2 linked regions of the Homo sapiens genome follow. The protein of the gene in region 2 purifies or fractionates together with the protein of the main gene of each other region. This does not show direct contact. Each region holds a gene or a part of one and is shown on either strand. Other genes may lie near its edges.

Region 1 (7,026 bases), on a different chromosome or scaffold from region 2:
TTTGCTCACAGTAAATAGCAAATAACCTCGAAGTGTCCTAATTTGTAAGTTCAAGTTTGTCACTGTGTCATAGAAACTCGATTGTAAAGCAAACTATGGGGCAGTAAGGCAAAACATAATTATTTGAAACACAAACCAACTAACAGGTGAAGCAGCCCTGTCAAAGTATTTAGCTGCAGCAGCTCAGCCCAGCCCATTATTTTTCCTGTTATCCTTTGGGATAGGGATGAAGAAGTGAACCGAAGATGAGTGTGAGAAACAGATGGAAATTCGAAAAGCAAACATAGCCACGTGACCTATGGAGAACAGTTTCTGGAAATGTTAGGTAGCAAAATGGGTCAGCTGATTGGTGTAAAGAATGTTAAACCCAGGGGCCAATGAGGCACCGGAGGGCAGGGCGTGTAAATGAAAGTGGAGGAACGGCGGGCACCGAGGCCTCGGTGTTTATACTGTTTGTACTATGTTTGTACTGGGTGCTCCAAGGTAACTGCCCATCAAACAGCAACGCTACCCCTGAAATTGAAACCAGATGTCAGAGACTTCAAAGGAAAGGAGGCTGGGCAGAGGGGAACGCTCCTCAACTCTGATCTTCCAAGGAATGGCCAGGCAGGGCTTTGAAATAAGAAACCTGTCACTGACCATCACCAGTGTAATTTGGGGCATGTTGGGATTGGGGAGCAATGAAGGAAAGAGGTCATTAGCAACTGTCCCACTGGCCAGACTGGGAGGGCATGGCACTGAAGGGCAAGGGATGGGGGGAAGAATGAGGTGGACTTCATCCAGCTGAGTGACCTCTGGCAAGTGACTTCTACCTTCTGGGGCTGTTTCCTTGTCTATGAAAGAGGAATTGGCCCAGGTCTGTGATATTTCCCAAACCACGCATCACTCTCATCATTGGGTTGTGGAATCCGTCGAATAGGTCATGACCAGCTTTTAAAACATACCGACTATAATATTTTGGAGTGCACTTCCATGGTTAAGATGACCATTGCTTTGGGAACCTTTTGTTTCAGTTACAGTTATTTATCATAACAGGTTTGCTGGGTGCAGGCAGTAGTCTAAGTATTTCACATCCATTCATTCATTTAATCCTCACAATGACCCTATGGGGTAGACAGACTATTGTCCTCTCCATTTTTCAGCTAAGATAACCAAGGCGCTGAGAGACTAACTTTTCTGAGGTTATGCAGCCAGCCAATGGCAGGGGCAGGACTTGAACTTGGCAATCTGTCTCCAGAGTCCAAGCACTTACCCATACACTGTACCCCGTATACACCACTGTGTGTGAGTGCTTATAAGTGAAGCGGGTTGTGAAGGAAAATTATTTTAAATTGTGTATCATGGGCAGAAGTGTGTGAAAGCCACTGGCTTACAAGCTCCTGGATCCCCTACAGCGCTGAGCCCCTGATTCCAGGGCACATAAATGAAGCCAGCTTGTATCGGGGGGAGGTTTTCTGCACCTGTGAGAGGACGGGTGACACACGTTTAGCAGGCTGCAGGGAACTTTGGCCTCATCCCCAGGTAATGGGGAGTTAAGTGTCTTCCTATGAAGATGTGTTCGCTGGGGCTGCCTTCAATTCAAAAGTGAGGAGGCTAATTTGGGCCCAATTCCCAGCCCGTGTGCCTCAACAGGGCTCCTCTGCGCTGCTGTAGCCAGCATACAGGCAGCATTTTTCTCCCTGGGAGCCAAAAGCACTTCTCCGACATGCCCTTATTAATCCCTCATGCCATCCTGCCGGCTGAGCCCGTGACAGGTACGGCACAGACAGGAAAATGGGGATACCTGGGGCTCTGGCGGAGGAGGGCAGGATAGCTCAGGCTGGTGGCTGCTCCTGCTGGCATCAGGCTCAGTCCCTGAGCCCCAGTGGCTCCCACAAACTCCTTTTGGCAGGCAGTGAGTGAGCTCTGGGTAAGATCTGGTGCCAGCTCTGCTGAGGGAGGAGGGCTGGCGACCCAAGGAAAGGAAGGTAGGGCCTGACTCAGAAGGGCAGGGCCCTCCCTCGGAAACCAGGAAGGCTGGGCACCCTCCGTGGGCCTCACCCTCATTTGGAATGATGAGAGGTGTTCCCCAAGGCCTGGGCCACCTGGCAGGAATGAGCAGGACAATGAGAAGGAGTCCTGCCCCCATCAGCTCCCTGCAACAGGGTCCCTCCTGAGCAAATAAATGCCTTTTACAGATGTGGCTCCGAAATGAAAATGAAGTCTCTTAGCCACTGACATCTGGAGGCCAGATTCAGACATAAACCGATTACTTTATTATCATGAGGGGTTTTTTTCTTCCCTAAATCAACAGCCACAGCCCTCTGGCCTGAAGAGCCAGGGTCTAATTGAATTTGGGTGGGTGGTGTGTGGTTATGATTTGTTTTTGAGAGACTCGGGTTGGAGAACTGAAATGATCCCTTAAAAAAGACAAAGTACATCCCTTGAGAAACTGTCCCAAGTCCAGAGGCTGCAGTACCCGTGGTCTGAGGCAGGAGAACATGGCAGGGGTCTGCAGCATTTCCAGCTCCTGGGATGGCTGCCCCCTCCACAGCCCTCCCAGGGCCTCGTGGGATGCCAGGGTCAGAGGACCATGTGGGTGAGATGCAAAGAGGAGGAAATGTCATCTTACCTGTCCAGTCACAGCCCAGCACCTCCAGCCGCATCCCAATCCCCGCCGGCGACCACCTCTCCGGGTATACCCGCACATACTGTGCCGGAATGGGGTCAAACCTTCGGATGTCAGGGGTGTCATAGTGCATGTTCCCTTCGAACAGCTGCAGGGAGAGAGGCCACTCAGCCCTTCTGGTGTGGGACCCAGTCCCTATCACCTTCTTCCCTTTCCTTCCCCTTCTCCTCCCTGCCCCGCACGTCCTGCTAGGAAGGCAGCTTCCTAGTTGATTCCTGGTCACTGGGACATTCTGATCCACGCGAGCTTCATTTTCAGACCAAGGATTTTATTCATTTGGAAGGTGGTTATGGACCCAGAATTATGGAAAATAGGAAGTAAACAAAGGTGGCAATTTCCAGGTTGTGTCTTTTACCTGGTGACTAAAATGGAGTATCTGGGGAAGAATTTGGCTCCAACTGCGTTTTCAGCTGACTTTGGCTAGAGAGGGGGGAAGGCAGTTTGGGCGATCTTTGACCGTTCTGAATTCCTGGTCTACAGGGAAAGGAACACTTCTTTTTCTAATGTGTGAAAGCCTCCATTGAGGTAACCCAAGCTGACTGATAGTTCCTAGCTCACTGAGAACCTTACGGGAAAATGACCCCTAGGCCAATGACACTGTCTTCTGGTCACACATCGATAGTCTTAGACTGTTTCCCAAACCTTTGTTTAGGGAAAGCACTCCTGTCAAAAGAAACCTCACATGGAGCCCCAGTACATAAAACTGATGATGCGGGGAGCAGGGGGCTGCTTTGGAGGACCAGCCTAGAGTACACTTGGAGACACTCATCCGGGGGAAGGACAGGAGTGGGTGGCCAGGGCCTGCAGCTGATTAGCCCCCAGAAATTCAGCAGGACCGCTCCAGTTTTCAGGATGCCCTGCGTCCACAATTCTGAACCAGAAGCACTGTCTCGGATAGGGCTGTCTCCCACAATGGCAAAGATCAACTTCTTTCCCAAGAAAAACCAGGCTCAGCTCTCCATGGGGAAGCCTGCGGTCCAACTTCTGCTCCATCGATGCAAGGTTCCAGTTACCAAGCCCTGAGCCTTTCTAAGCCTCTGGAGTTGAGAGCTGGGAGTTTACCTCAGCATCGCAAAACCTCCAACCCAACTCTTGCCTCTGTATTCAGAATGGAGACATTTGCTTAGCAAAGGTGGCCCCGAGACATGCAAACTCCCTCCTTTTTTAGGGACCTGTTCTTTTGAGAAAAACAAGGGGTAACTAGAGATAAGAATCAGAGAGCCTGGCCTGCCAGGAGACTGATCTGGGGAGGGACAGAGGTATGACGTCTCCTCCCCTTCTGGGGCTCCTTGTGTCTGTGTTGAAGGCTGACCTTCACTCTGGTGGCAGGGGAGTAAGCTGTACTGGCCTGAGCTTCTGGCTCGGGGTGAGTTTCTCTTGCTTCTCCCTTGCCTCAGTCTGAGAGGCCGGAAAGATCTAAGCAGTCAAAACTAGGAGAATACAAAGGAATGCAGCGACATTCAGAAAAACATCGTTATTTTTGGAAGTCATCCTCTAGTTTCTATAGCTTGGCCTCCAAAAACCACATCCCCTTTAGATGTCTGGCCAATTTCAAGGAAACTTTATCTGAAAGAGTGTATAAAGAGTGTTGAACTTTATAAAAAGGCAGTGTTCAGTAGGGGTTAGGCATCTGGACTTTGGAGTCAGACTTCCGGTTTCTGAATCGGCTCTATCACAGGTGAACTGTGTGACCCTGGGCATGATATCAAGTGTCAGTTTATCATCTCTAAAATGGGAGTGACAAAAAGATCTACTTTGCACAGATGTTGTAACGATTAAAAAAGAGTCCAGGCCGGGCGCGGTGGTTCATGCCTATAATCCCAGCACTTTGAGAGGCCAAGGCAAGTGGATCACTTGAGGTCAGGAGTTCGAGACCAGCCTGACCAATACGGTGAAACCCCATCTCTACCAGAAATACAAAAATTAGCTAGGTGTGGTGGCGGGCACCTGTAATCCCAGCCACTCAGGAGGCTGAGGCTGGAGAATCGCTTGAACCCTGGAGGCGGAGGTTGCAGTGAGCCGAGAACAGGCCACTGCACTCCAGCCTGGGTGACAGAGACTCCATCTCAAAAACAAACAAACAAACAAACAAAAGAGTCAGAAATAAGGTATTTAGCACAGTGCCTGGCACAAAGTAATCTCTCAAACGATATTTGTTTTATTGGATTTCAGGAGTTGGATGACGACTGTTTAGATGGGACATCATCAGTCTCAACTCCCTGTACCACACTTAGCCTCCCTGTTGAGGGTAACGTTACAGAGGCCTCCAAGAACAGCCTACCTTTGGCTGCTGGGTCCTGGGGTCCTGAATGTATTCCCAGTCCTTGCCGTTTAGGCTGTAGGAGACTTTGAACTTGCGCACAAATGCTCTGGCTTCCACAGCAGTGATACTGTCTCCTCCGCGGGCTCCCTGGATGATGACACCTTTCACTGTCTTGGGTGTTCCCAGATCTACCTGAAGCCACTCCTCACCGGGCTGGGCCTGAGGGATTCGAGGGAACCAGCCCGAGCGGCTGCTAACCAGGCGGGCTGCACTGGGGCTCCAGAGGTATTCCTGGGTGGAAGAGGCGGAGATCTGGGAGTCTGCAATGAGGCCTGAGAGCATCCCCAGCATGTTGGAGCAGGGAGCATCTGCAGAGAGGAGAGGAAGATACAAGAGGTCATGGCTGACACCTGCTAACCAGGGACCACCCGCTATAAGAAGGGAGCTGCAAAAGAGCCCAACTGTCAAATACTAAGTCAGCACTAATTTCTTTGCATGGTGAATGTGTACAGCACTGTGGTTAAGAGCCTGGACTCAGAGCTAGACTGCCTGTGTTCATGTTCACTCTGCCACTTACTAGTCAGAGGGCCTTGGGCAAATTATTTAATTGCTCTTTGCCTCAGTTTCCTTAGATCTAAAGGGGAGCTAATAGAGGTGCCTACCTCTTGAGGGCTGTTGCAAGGATTCTGTTAGTTACTAAGAGCTCACAGGATGGTGCCTGGCATATTTAAGTATCCAATGGCCATTAACTATTTGTGCTTACAGCTCTAACCAAGGACTCTCAGAATGTGTGTCTGCACATCCCTGTCGATGACACTAGTCCCCACTGACCCTATCAGGGACACTGAGAACAGGGGAACTGAGCTAAACATTGAATTATTTCCTAGTAATTGTTTTGCCAAGTAGAAGGAAACCTTCCTGGCATCAGTATCAGGTCTTTACTTCCCAAATAACTGCTCTTTACTGCCTTGGATCCTTCCCACATGCTGTTCCCATTACCCCAAATGCTTTTCCCTTCAGTCACCCCCAGACTAACATTTTCTTACCCCCAAGCTCAAGTGTCATATCCACAGAAAAGCTGTTCCCAAATTTTCAATCCTCACTAAATTGGTTTCCCTCAGAGCACCCTGTTCTTTTCCTTCATGTGCACATTCTAGTTTATCCAGTACTTGCATTTGTTTATTATCTATCTTGCTCAGTAGCCTGAAAGTTCTACGATGTCAGAGACCCCATCTATTTTGTTCCTGTCTCTATGTCCCATTCCCAGTGTGTGCCTGGCACATCAGATGTGTGGAACAAATGATTGAGTGGAGAATGCATGAATAAATGATGTCAGGCAAGGCAGGGTCTATAGTCAATGTGCATTTCATACTTGCAAACTGAGCTATGGATAAAAAAGATCCTCCACGTTGTTCCCCTTCTTCAAAATCACTGGTTCTCTCCTTTCAATCTTCCAGAGAATGACCTCTACCTAAATCTTTGCTGATTATCCTGGAACAGCAACAGGGAAGGGACAGAAAATAGTCCCCTAGACAGGATTAGCATAAACTGATCCCATTAGAAGAAAATGGGTCTTTGTGTAAATGTGGTAAGAGCAGAGAATTTGAATTGAGAAAACGTGGGTTCAGATCCTGGCTCTGTCACCTCCTAGTTGAATGACTTTGGGCAAGCTATTTAGCCTCTTTGAGTCTTGGTTTCCTTATCAGTCCCTGGCCCACCTTACCTCACAGGGTTGTTAGAAAGTGTAGGCAAGATGATAAACAAGAAAGGCATGTGGAGATGCAGAGACTGTACAAACACAAGGTGTTTTAACTAGAAACCTCAAACAGGGTCAGACCTTGGAGCACTCCCTGTCAGAGCTGGAATGATTAGGGGAAAGGCACGTGGATGGATGTACACTGAAGACACTTCCAGGTCAAAGAGGCAACTTGCCTGCCCTGGGCTGAGCCCACAAGATAAAGGGGATTGGTCTGTCCATAAATTTCTGGGGCTAATCCAGCCATCATCATCTCCCATCTGCACCCCCTGCATTGCCTCCTATAATGTCCCAACTCCCACTCTGGTCTTCTCCAATCTACATGCCTTGGGTTTCAGC
Region 2 (6,905 bases):
ATCAATTTTCATGAACTAATTTATAATTAAACATAAGTGTTTTTAAAATGTTAATCATATGACTGTATGCTGACTTTTCATCTGAACAGTATTTTCATGAGACCATGAATACCCACTGAATTTGTTTTAATTCTGCCCATAGATTAAACTTTTAAAAGAGAGAGAGAGCAATAACTAGAAATGCTAAGATCAAAACACAACTCCCTAAATAGAGTGGTTTGTAAAATAAGTATTCACACTTCTAATGAATACGCTAGATGGCTCACATCCCATTTAGCAGTAAAATAATCCCACCATGAAGGAAGGAGTAATGAGTTATCGTGGTTTGCTAAGAGTAGACCAGAATCACTGAGCAGAATAAATACATTTGAACAAATCTCATCCTTCTTCCACCTAAAAAAACAAAACCTCAAAACCATCTTATGTGTATAAAATGAAACCGCTACAATTAGTAGGAATTAAGTTAGGTACCTTTACAGTAAGTTAAAAGCTGTAAAGACAATGAAAACAGGCAAAACCAAAACAAAACCATAGTTAAATATCTACATACATTTGGGCCAGCATTTTCACGAGTAATTTGATGGAGACAGATTATGGCATTTTCCGTGTGTTTCAAAGAAACAATACCACTTTATTCTATTTTTCAAGTTTTTTTCAGTGAGGAAATGAAAATGCATTGGGTGGTCTTTTTGCAACTAACCTTTTGTCTGTTTTTTTTTTTTAAATAGATGGCTTTGGCAGTACTTGCCAGACTTGTTAGCTGTAAATCATGGTGCTCAATCAAGCCCAAGTGGAATGCTTTTTTTTTTTTTTGCTATTCAAATTGGTCCTGATATGTCCTTTTTATGAGAGGACACTACACACACAGGAGAAGGTTCCTGATCATTGCTTTGTGCAGTCATGCCAAGAAAACAATGCAGATACACCTGATGGTGAGGGTGGGGCGTATAGATGTTTGTTGTTTTAGATGTTTTTGTTTGCTTGTTTTTGTTTTGTTTTGTTTTGAGCTCTTGAATTCTTAAAAGCACCTTTTGGATCTTTTCCTCCTATCCTACCTTTGATGTAAAAACGCTGTCCGATTAAATTTCCACTTAGAAGGTTTCTCTTGGAGTTCCTGGGTGAGAGAATTCGTAATGGGCACGAATGACGGGTCTAGAAACTTCAGCGCAAATTGTGACCTGGAGAGGAGCATGAGCACAGACAAGCGTGCTGGCCTCAGCTCGGGGAAGCCGAGGTAGCCATTAAAGTGCAGCGGCTGGGGCGAGGGCGGCTGGTACGCGTGCGGGCTCCGTTCCGTCCCGGAGCCCCTCTCATTTGGTCCACCCTCTGCTCCCACACACACCCGAGAGAAAAAAAGAAAACTAGGGAACCCCATCTGCATTGTCCATCCCTCCGGGTGCCGGAGAGACCATAAAATGGCCGTCATGCGGAGAGCAGGGCGCACGCCGGGCGCAGGGCTGGAGCCCGCGGCGCTGCGAGGACCAGGGAATCAGCACCGCGGACAGCGGCCGCCCCGCCAGCCTGACCCGCTACGCCTTTGCAGCCCCATAGAATTGTTTTTGGAGAAAGGGCAGAGGAAACCGGAGACCCAGGGAAAGTCTGGGGGTGGTTCCTGCCTTAACCTCTTCCTTCCCAAACCCACGTCCGATTTCACTTCCTATAACTTGGCTGGGGACCCCCGGGGGCCGCCGGCCTACTCCGCTCCTCGGTCCAGGCGAGGCTCCTCTGGGTTCCTCGCCTCGGTCCCAGCTTGGACCACAGGTGGCACTTTGTAGTTGCCACCTGCCCGTCAGGAGGCCCTGCTGGGAGAGTTCCCGGGGTCACAGAGCGGGGCGGGGGCTCTCGCAGAGCGGCGTCAAGCTGCGCCTGGAGCCTTCACAGGCCGGCCCAGCGCGGAGCGGTGACTCCGACCTGGCGAGGGTGGGCGGCCCTTCCGAGGCTCGCTTCCCGCAGGGGGCGGGGGAATTGCAGAAATCCCGGAAAGCTGGTGGGGGGCGGTGGCTGCGGGGGAAAGGGTTGAGAGAGAACGCCCCAGGGGCTTCCTGAGAATAAACCCGCGTGTCCTTTGATAGGCGTGGGGGAGTAAAGGAGGAGGGCGCGAGGGGAGTCCGGCGCCTGCGCCATTAAACCGCCAGCACCGCCCCGGGCCCGGCCCGCGGAGTCTGCGGACAGGGCGCGGGGAGGGCGCTCCCCTCACGCCTGTCCATCTCTGCTCGCCGCCCCCTCCCGAACAAACACACCGTCTTTCCCTCCACCCTCACCCTCCTGAAAGCCTCCCCCAACCCCCATTTCTGAAATGAGGGAAGGGATGCTGAGGAAGAATACGAGAAATGCAATCACATCGATTTGGACAGCGGCTTCTAGGGGCTTTGGGTTAAAAAAAAAATAACAGGGAGGGGGAAGGGAGAATTAGAGAGAGGAGTGGAAGGACCGCGCAGTTATCTGGCCCAAAGAGTCTCGGAGAGGCCAAAACACCCCTCCCCCACGCCTTCCCTTCCCCAAACACCCCATCAACCAAATTCCCGAGGGCACTAACACAGAGGCCCGCACTCACCGGAATCCCGCGTGGAACATGTACATTCGGGGCGCCCCCGGGCTGGCGTACTTGGGAGTGGTGAAGATGTTCTCCTTTTTCAGGGACACGTAGCTGATGAGCGATAAAATCAGCAGGGCGACGCTGAGCATGACCAGCCCCAGCACACTGGCGACCCGGGCCATTTTGCAGTTTCTCATCCCGGGCTGGGCTGGGTTCAGGGAAACCGGGGAAATCGGTCCATTGAGCGGCCAGCAGCTCGCTGGCGTGTATATATGTGTGTGTGTGTGTGTGTGTGTGTGTGTGTGTGTGTGAGCGCGCGCGCGTGTGGCGGAGGAGGGGGACCCGGGCGGGGGTGGGGGGAGGCCACCGGGGCCGGGGGTTGGGGCTGGCAGGAGCCCCGGAGAGCAGCGGGACCCCGTAGGCAGGGGCGCGCGGGGCCCGGTGCCGAGCAGGAAGATGGAGGGGCTGCGCGGCGGCGTGGCGAAGGAGCGCGCAGCGCCGTGCGTCCCCGGCCGCCGGCTCAGGCTCCCCCGCGCGTTTCCAGCGAGGCTGCCATCTCCTCCGCCGCCTGCAAGATAAATGTGATTGGAATAATGTTACAGTTCGATCTAAGCACAGGATTTAATTAATGAACTCTAATCTCCCAAATAACCGGGGGGAGGGGGTGCAGGAGAGGGAGGGAGTAGAGGGAAATGGTGGAGGGAGGGGGACTGAGGCTGCCAGGCTGCAGCCCGAGCCTACGGCCTCCCCGGCTGAGGGTGCCGGCGAGGAGGTGGCTGTGGGGAGACGGGATCCCAAACTTAGTTTAATGGACCATTCATTACTTTATAATATCACGGAATAGAGAGACAAATAACCGGATTTGCTGTCCTGGAGGGTAAACAACAGCTGGGTGCTTCTCAAAGAAGCAGGGAGGATGGTTTTTGGAAGGCAGCTATTTAAAAGCATCTCCCCTCGTTAAGGCACCGCCCCGGCCCCCTGCCCCCGCCATCCTCCCACCCCAAAGGAAGCTCCAAACAGCAACTGGGCCTGCCTGCCTCGGGAGCCCTTAAAACCTTCTTGGAATTTGCCAGAATGACTCCCCTGTGCGCCTTGTATGCCCACCACATACTTCACTTATCCCTAAAGGGTGGGTAGTGCCTAGCAAAGTTGCGAGGTGACCTGTGAGTCGGGAGGGCCTGCCTTCCTCTCCCCTTTCCGTCTTCCAGTGGATGGACAATGTGCTTGCCCCTGACTTGACTGGGCCTGTTGAAGTCAGCCCTGGTTTAACTCTCCGTTGCCCACTCTTCAGATCCATCCTTCGGGCCTGGTCTCCTGATGGGCTAGGTGGCCTGAGCCTCCCAAAAGCTGAGGCCATTAAAAAACACAGAACTTTTTATGAAGCAGCCCAAGAACCAAATAATAGAGGCTGCCTCTGAGAGTGGAAGGCAAACGCACTAACACTTTGCATTGCTTGACCTTAAATTTATTTTAGCATATTCACGTGTTTCTTGTATATCCATTAGAAATACAAATTAATCCATTTTCAGTCATGCAGTTGGGTGCTCAGGGGAAACTAGCATGTTTCTTTAGCTCTGTCCTTTGCAATTAGCTTATGGCCTCTGCTACCCTAGCTTTACTCTTCGCTTGGTCCTCCCAATACTAGTTAATAAGCACTAATGAGGGAAGCTAGGGGTGAGAAATTGGCGTTTGAGTTCTGATAAAACAAGTTGAGATTCTTCCAAGATGGTTATGACTTCTTTCTCTCCTGAACTTCTTGCCTTGTAGGCTTTCATGGACCTAATGTTATTATCTGTCTGGAGGCTGTAAATTCCTTGAAGGGGTGAGCTCCTGGATTGTAAGCTTCGGCAGAGCAAGGCTTGTCTTACTTCTCCAATACTGTCTCTTACACATGTCATGCTTGCTAAATGTTTGAAGACCTGATGAGCTCCCTTGGGAAACATATCTGTGTGGTTGTGGACAGTGGCACAAAGAATGCTCCTATTTGTTTCCAGTGACAAAGGGGGTCACTTTGCACCCACTAGAGACTTTTTAACCAAAATCTAAAAGTGTGTGTCAGGAGGACACAAATAACCTCCTTTCCTCTGTGGGGCTTTTTTATTATTTAAAAAAATTTAGAAAAGGCTTGCATGCCTGGATATGATGAACACTTGAACTGTATTTTTTTAAATTGCTATTTTTTAAAAATGATTGTATGAGTAAGGTGTAAAATGCCAAAGGGAGTAAGATCTTAAGAGAGCCATCTAGGAATGACACCTGTTAGAAAAAGTCTTCTTGAACCAGAAATCAGGAAACATGCTATGGAGAGGCAGCCTGGGGTAGTGTTACACCTTCAGACTGTGGAGCCAGAAAGACCTGACTTCAAAAGCATACTCTGGGTATTATCAAAAACACAAAAAATAACAAATGCTGGCAAGGATGCAGAGAAAAGGGAACTCGTATACACTGTTGGTGGGAATGCATTCTAGTACAGCCACTATGGAGAACAGTACAGAGGTACCTGAAAAAAACTACAAACTGAACTATTATAAGATCCAGTATTCCCATGACTGGGCGTTTATGCAAAGGAACGGAAATCAGTATGTCAAAGAGATATCTACCACCATGTTTATTGCCACATTGTTCACAATAGCCAAGATATGGATCAACCCAAGTATTCAACAACAGATGAATGGATAAAGAAAATGTGGTATATATACATAAAGGAATCCCATTCATCCATAAGTAAGAATGAAATTCTGTCATTCTCAGCAACAGGAATGAGCCTGGAGGACATTATGTTAAGTGAAATAAGCCAGGAACAGAAAGTTAAACACCGCATGTTCTCACTCATACACAGAAGCTAAAAAAGCTGATCTCAAAGAAGTAAAAAGTAGAACAGAGAATACTAGAGGCTGGGAAGTGTACGGGGGAGAGAGGATAAAATATTTATTAAAGGATACAAAATTACAGCTGGATAGAAGGAATAAGTTCTAGTGTTCTATAGCACTATAGGATGACTATAGTTACAATAATGTATTGTATATTTTCATATACCTAGAAGAGAAGATATTGAATGCCCCAAAACAAAGAAATGATACAAGTTTGAAATGACAAATATGCTAATTACCCTGATGGGATCACTATGTATTGTATGTATCAAAATATCACTATGTACCTATATATGTATGATTATTATGTATCAATTAAAATAAATGCTTACTCTGGCATCCACAGCCAGGTGACCTTGGGTAAGTTACAACTTCTCTGTGTTTCAGTCTGCTAATCTGCAGAACTGGGATAAAAATCTCCCAGGGTTTGGGGGAAGATTAAACAAAGCATATAAAGGCCTTTGCACCCTGGCCTATATTAAGCAGTTAATAAATATGAGCTAACAGCTTGGGTAAGTTTTTAGTGTCTTTTTCTCTGACCCTGTAAATGTCCTGCTACAGAGTGCATACGAAAGGATGTACTTAGGTGAGATATTTTCTTGCAGAGAATAGCAAAGATCAAGAAACTCTTCTGTTCCCTTTATAAAACAGCATTGCAGGCTTTCCTGAGACATCTGATATGGGTTCGCTCTGCCTGGATTTAAAAACTGATGTATTACTTATGCTTAGCACACCTCTGTGAACCTTCTAAAGAAAGTCCTAGGAGGACGATTTTCATATTGCATACAGGCCACTGAAGGTCACATGATGTAAAGGGACCAAATTAGCCAGAAAATAAACAGGCAGGCAGGCATCCTTATTACATGTGACAGGCTTATGGGTGAAAACGGATTGCTCAATAATTACCAGGGGAATAATTTTGGTGGCGGTGCTTCAAAAAACAACTGTAGCTACTGGATAAGGGATTTTTCAGGCCTGGGATTATAGCTATTTAATAATTAAAAAAAATCAGGACATTTTAACAAAATATCACTTATCAAATTTCATTGGAAATCAATCCTGTGCAAGAGTATAGGCGAGTGAAAATAAGAAGCACAGAAATGAAAAATCCCCCAGATGTAATGTTTTCTAGGAGAGTGTTATTCTAGACATAGGAACTTACTTCCCTTCTTCCACTCTCATGAGTGCCCACCTTTTGCGAACATGACTCTGCTCCCTGGCTAGCCCCTCACCAACCCATACTGGCCAAGAACAATTTCCAGGAACCCATTTAGGTGGGAAGGCCAGGAAAGGTGGTGTATTTTGTTAGAAACAACATTGTTCCTTTGGGAGGCAGAGGCGGGCAGATCACTTGAGGTCAGGAGTTTGAGACCAGCCTGGCCAATGTGATGAAACCCTGTCTCTACTAAAAATACAAAAATTAGCCTAGTGCAGTGGTGGGCCCCTGTAATCCCAGCTACTCAGGAGGCTAAAGAAGGAGAATCACTTGAACCCAGGAG

What was found. The genes of interacting proteins can lie anywhere in the genome.
Region 1: the proteins of ST8SIA3 (region 2) and NRP2 purify together in Homo sapiens (affinity purification with mass spectrometry; 2 studies listed by BioGRID and IntAct, with this or other methods). This does not show direct contact.

Annotation. Positions count from the first base shown.
Region 1 is NC_000002.12:205,741,476-205,748,501, reverse strand, and holds part of NRP2 (neuropilin-2 isoform 2 precursor), read right to left. Parts: intron 5,300-7,026; coding exon 4,950-5,299; coding exon of another isoform or gene 4,923-4,949; exon of another isoform or gene 4,804-4,922; intron 2,757-4,803; coding exon 2,612-2,756; intron 1-2,611.
Region 2 is NC_000018.10:57,348,675-57,355,579, reverse strand, and holds the start of ST8SIA3 (alpha-N-acetylneuraminate alpha-2,8-sialyltransferase ST8SIA3), read right to left. Parts: upstream 3,024-6,905; 5' UTR 2,734-3,023; coding exon 2,555-2,733; intron 1,179-2,554; coding exon 1,056-1,178; intron 1-1,055. UniProt on the Homo sapiens protein: Catalyzes the transfer of sialic acid from a CMP-linked sialic acid donor onto a terminal alpha-2,3-, alpha-2,6-, or alpha-2,8-linked sialic acid of an acceptor, such as N-linked oligosaccharides of glycoproteins and glycolipids through alpha-2,8-linkages.